2 separate regions of the Homo sapiens genome follow, and region 1 is linked to region 2. The links come from fine-mapping of genetic effects on gene expression. A gene starts in region 2. The other region holds a variant in brackets. All regions are shown on one strand. Distances are between the middles of the regions.

What was found.
Region 1: its variant is fine-mapped to the expression of ZDHHC2 in left ventricle (GTEx, PIP 0.97).

What each region holds. Positions count from the first base shown.
Region 1 is chr8:17,187,950-17,190,969 of GRCh38, forward strand. The region is part of intron 3 of ZDHHC2 (zDHHC palmitoyltransferase 2); the gene reads left to right. Among named protein-coding and RNA genes, the nearest start is that of ZDHHC2, 33 kb to the left of the region's middle. The variant T/C (reference allele first, on the strand shown) is at 1,676.
Region 2 is chr8:17,154,875-17,157,592 of GRCh38, forward strand. It overlaps ZDHHC2 (zDHHC palmitoyltransferase 2), which reads left to right and starts at 1,608. Exons shown (of 13, transcript NM_016353.5): 1 at 1,608-1,979. The coding sequence starts at 1,850. RefSeq lists a silencer at 1,067-2,426.

The sequences.
Region 1 (3,020 bases), 33 kb after region 2:
TTAATGGGCAGTTTATCACTGCTCTAATTCTGGGTCTTCATCATCTCCCTTGTCTGAGATATTGTATTCTTCTCCTGGTAATTTGGTTATTTTAAAACAAGCAGATCATTTGTGAATACCATAATTTTAGTCTGTACTTGCATATTATAATGATAATTATGTTTCTCTCATTTTAGTTGTGTGCCTAATGGCCTATCATCTACTTTTTGCAATGTTTGTCTGGTCATACTGGAAAACCATCTTAAGGTTTTCTGTTTACAGCCTGGCCTACCTTTCCTTCCCAGAACCCCACAAAACTTCATCCAATACCCTGAAGCTGGAGTGGTCCTCCTAAAAACCAATGTAACGCCTTCCCTCTACTGCTTGTATCTATTGTGATTCCATATATCCCACAGGGGAAAGCTCAGTCTCTTCTGCCTAGCAATAGCAGCTCTTGTCTCAATTTCTGACTTTATACTTTATACTCTAGTAGTTCTTAACTACACATAGTTTCCTGTATACAACATGGCATTATTTCCTTTCCAAAATATTCTTACCCCTTTCTCATGGAAATAATATATTTATTTTCCATTCATACTGGCAGCTCCTTCTTGGCCTCCTTTGCTGGTTCCTCTTCAGCTCCTAGACTGCCAAAGCATTGGAATGTTCCAGAGCTTAATCCCTGGACTTCTCTTCTTATATACCTGCATTTATTCCCTCGTGGATTTCATTGAGTTCTGTGACTTTATGTGTCACCCCAGTGCCGCAGCTCTCAGATTAATATATTAGCCTGGTGCTTGCTAATAAACGCCTGACACATTTCCAGCTCCCTATTTGACATCTAATAGAAATTTCAGGTTCAACACAACTGAAAACAAACTTCTGATTTCTCATTTAATTCCCCAGTTCTTCTAGTCCTAAAGTTTTCTTATGTCAGTAATGACAGTTTCACTCTTCTGTTCAGGCCAGAAACATTGGTGTCATCCTTGGCTACTCTTTTTCTCTCGGACGCCACATCTAGTCAATCAGAAAATTCTATACCCTCACCCTCAGAGTATGGCCACAATGTGAACTCATGTGCCGCACTGCTCCCTGCTCCCACCCCGGTCCAAGCCACCATCCTCTCTCATTTATAGATTTGCAGTAGCCTCTTAACAGGTTTCTTTTTGTTGGGTTTTTTTTTTTGGTGTTTTGTTATGTTTTTTTTTTTTTTTTTTTGGCCTCCTCTTGTGTATTTTCAACACAGTAGCCAAAGTGATCCTTTCAAAAGACAAGGCAAATCTCTCACCTTTTTGATGTCTTTATACAAATGGTACCTTATCATTGAGGCTGTCTGTGATGACTCAACATAGAATAGCAACCCCACTACCCTCGGCTTTCCCTGCACCTTACCTTCCTGGATTTTTCTCCATAACATTTACCATCATGGCAACACACTGCATATTTATTTGTTGAATACTTTTGAAAATACACCATCGTTAGAATGTAGGTTCCATAAGGGCGTGAAATGTATCTTTGTTCACTGCTTCATCACCAGTGCCTAAAGCAGTGTCTGACCTATAGAAGGTACTCAAGAGATACTTTTTAAGTGACTAAAAGTAGGGAAGAAGTTATTCATACACATGCAGGTTTATTTTTATGGCCTTGGCAGGAAGTTGAAGTGACTTCTAACTTCTCTCTAAAATTATATATGACA[T/C]CATTGGCTAACAGTGAAGACCTAAGTGGGTTAATTAAGGGTTGGGAGAGTAGAGAAGGTTTGAAATAGTGGATTGGACAGAGTGGCAAAAGGATATGAAACACACGGAAGAAAGAACACAGCATTGAAGGAGCAGTCAAATCGATGACAGTGACATTATAACGGTATCAGGCTTCATTGTGTGATTTTTCTACAAAAGACGTACCTTAGTCATACAACTGTTTGAGATAGATACTATTTTTTACTATTTTACAGATGGAGCCACTGGCTTTGAACATGAAACAATTAAGGTATCTAGTGCTACTGTGTGGGAGAGCTAAGGTTCAACCAAAAGTCCTTTCAACCCTTAAGGACACTTTCTTTTCACTACACCATGCTCTAGTATGGAGAGCAAGCACAATGGGTGGGAGTGCCCAGGACTTCAATTGAAGCATGGGGGAAAAATAGCAAAAATTTTTTTACGTATTATTCATTTAATATTTTTATTTTTTAAAGTTTTGTATATGAGGTACATAAGCTATTAGCTGATAAAATATATACCAATACACTTGAACCTGGGAGGCGGAGGTTGCAGTGAGCCGAGATCGCACCACTGCACTCCAGCCTGGGCGACAGATCGACACTCCGTCTCAAAAAAAAAAAAGAAAAGAAAAGAATATATACCAATAAATACTCATCTGTTAGCAGTGTGATCTCACGTAATTTTTTACGGTTAGGGGAACATGATCAAAAGAGTTTGGAGACCACTGTTAGGAAGAAAGAGCCCTTGTCTGGTGGTTAAGAACCTTAGAATATTCCCTTTATAAAACGCAAGGTCTTGGGCTATTCTTTTAATTGATCAGCTGTTAGAGACCTCTCGCTTGTAAAATGAGGATCCTGAACTGAAAACATGTGAATTAAAATTTGCCCTTTTCATAGCAAGATTGTTAAAGTGATAATAGTTTTTCATTGGTAAGATTTTCTCAATATAAAAGTAATACAACCGCACTAAATTATATTTTGAAAATGAAGACTAGGCAAAAAGAAAAAAGAGAAAAATCCGTTACACCAATTCAAGCACTTTACATTCTGAATTTCTTTGTAGTTAAAAAAAACTTGTGAGTACCTAATAGATATATATATTTATGGGGTACCTGAGGTATTTTGATACAGGCATGCAATGTGTAATAATCACATCAGCGTAAATTGGGTATCAGTTACCACAAGCATTTGTATTTTGTGTTACAAAAAATCCTATTATACTCTTAGTTATTTTAAAATGTACAATTAAATTATTATTGATTGTAGCCGCCCTATTGTGCTGTCAAATACTAGGTCTTATTCATTCTTTTTTTTTTTTTTTTTT
Region 2 (2,718 bases):
CCAGTATGGAAAATCCGATTCCTTCCTTTTCATACCTTGATGGTCTCTATTGACCTTCAGTCACTGATTTGCTTCTCTTTGTGAGGGTATTTCAGTCCCAGGAGGAAGTTTTAATTCCTGTTTTTTACTCTCTTCTGATTGGGGGGGAACACAGGATTAATATTCATGGAAAACATTAAGGAATCCAGAGAAGTTTTATTTTTACATTAATATACAGAATATCCACAGAGAATATAAAAGGCTACAGCAAAATCAAGTGATTCACTGGGACATAATATGTCTCTCTTTTCAATTATTTAAAGTCCCACAGAAACTTGACTGACATTTTCTATGCATTTTTGAAGAGAAATGGAAAGAGATGTGGGGTGGGGGGCTGTAACATAGTAGCTATTTCGGGAGAGATTAGCTTGTTGTGTAATCCAGTCACAGAAAGATAATCGCAGACACCAGAGCTAAATTTCTTTGACTGAATTCATGTAAATCAGTATTTTTTTTTTACTTCTACACATGAATAAGAAGTAATTTCATTCACTGTGGTTGCTGTGTGGTGTAAATACACATATTCACTAATGTTAAGAAAAATTGTGCCTATTATGTATAGTAGTGATGCACATAATTTACACACACTCATTGATTGAAATGTTTCCCTGTGGATCAGGTGCGTTCATAATCAGATGAAGGAAAAGCAAAGGAGGCATTTGTTTATTTTCCATTTCGTGAATCATAAAATCAGAGGTTTGGGCTGACTACCTTTAGGTTCCCTTACGGTGTTTTTTGGGAACCGCTTTGGAGTCAGCTATCTGCTAAGTTTGGAATTGCCACCACGAAAGTAAACACCGTAGTGAGGAGCGGGTTGAGGAAAAGAATAAATAGTTGGTGGAAGGAACCACCGTACTTGAGGGAGGGGACAGTGGGAACGGCCCCTGTCACAATCATTTATCCAAAGCATCAACATTCTCAGAGCAAAGAACTTGTGTTTCTAACTCCAGAGGTGCCTGGATTCACAGCCAAAAATGCTTCTTCCTCGCTCTCCACAGCCCCTCCCATGCCAGACGCCGGCTCGGCACCCCCTCTTCGCTGTGCATTTCTGCTTCCCCCGAAAGCCCGAGTAGTAAAGGGAGGCTCCTTGCGGCCCCCGCGGGCTCCCAGGGACCCGCAAGTTGAAGCGCGAGGGTTCCACGCGGGCTGCGGGGACGCGGGCCTCGGTGCTGCAGACTTTCTCAGGGCGCCTGGGTCGCGGCAGGCGCGGAGTCCCGAGCGCAGCAGCTGCTCCGCCGGCCTCGCCTCCGACCCCCGCCCTGCGCCAAGCGCGGAAGCGCTCGCGACCTAACTGCCCCGGGTGCCGGGCGCCTAGGGAGGGGCCGCCACCGCCCGCTCCGCCCCGGGGGCCTGCGCCCAGCAGCCCCCGCCTCCCCGGAATCCAGAGGCCGAGCCGGAGGCGGCGGGGCCACGGTGGGAGCCCGCGAGGTGGCCCGAGCGAGGGCCCCGCATCCCCGCAGAGCCCGCCCGAGGGCGCAGCCTGCCACGCCAGGGGAGGCGGCCGGGCGGCGGGGAACGGCGGGGGCGGAGCGCAGCCTCCCGACGCCGCCGCCTCACCGCCCCCCTCCGCCTCCTCGGCCTCCGCTCGCAGCCGCCGCCTCCGCCTCCGCCGGGCTGAGGAGCCGGGAGTCCGCCGCGCCGGCTCGGGGCTGCGGGATGGGGAGTTAGCGCCACGGCGGCGGCAGTGGCCGCAGCGCACCCCGCCGCCGCCCAGGAGCCCGTCCAGCCAGGGGTGCCGGGCCCGCCCAGCCCGCCCCGGAGCCAGGCCCGCGGGCGGCGGCGGAGCTGGGCAGGTGGATGCGGCTGGAAGATGGCGCCCTCGGGCCCGGGCAGCAGCGCCAGGCGGCGGTGCCGGCGGGTGCTGTACTGGATCCCGGTGGTGTTCATCACCCTCCTGCTCGGCTGGTCCTACTACGCCTACGCCATCCAGCTGTGCATAGGTGAGTGCGCCCCCCGCCGCGGCGCCCCCAGCGCAGCGCAGCCCACCCCGACTGTCCCGGGACGCTCAGCCGCTCCTCCGCTCTCGCCCCCCGGATGCGCCCCGGGCGCTGCCAACCTGCCGCGTCCCGCCGGCTCCGCCGCTAAAAGCAGCCTCGGGGCAGCTTCTTCCACGCGCACGCCCCTCGCCCTCCCCTCCCAACTCTCGGGTTAAGGTGGCGCCTCCGCCCCGCACTCGCCGCCGAGCCTCCCGCCGCCTTCCGCTCACCGCCGCCGCCTCGGCCACACCCCCTAGAGGGGCGGAAGGTCCCCGGGACCGCTGTGGAGAGGGGAGGCCGAGGCCGGCGAGGCGCGCCGGGGGCTGAAGGGCTGAGCTGGGCCCGGCCCCGAGCTGCGCCAGACCCGCGCGGGGGTGCTGGCCTTGGCGGCGGAGCTGGATCCCTTGCTGGTTGGCGTCAATGCACTTGTTAAAAATTTGTGACAGCGCTCAGGGGCGTTTTTGCTGCCTTTATGATTTGAGGATTGCCAGTTGGACACTTTTCTAGTTTAAAAGGATGTGGAGGAGGTGAGCTACTAGAAAGTATTTTTGAGGACATGTGCAACACACTAAACCATAATTTAGGTGTTTGAACAGTAGGGAGAGAAAAAAAGAGGTGATCGTCTGAGGTTTTTACATCCAGAGAGCGAAGTGGCTCCAGTCCGAGTTCGAGGTTCCTGAATTGGTGGGTAGGATACTTTTAA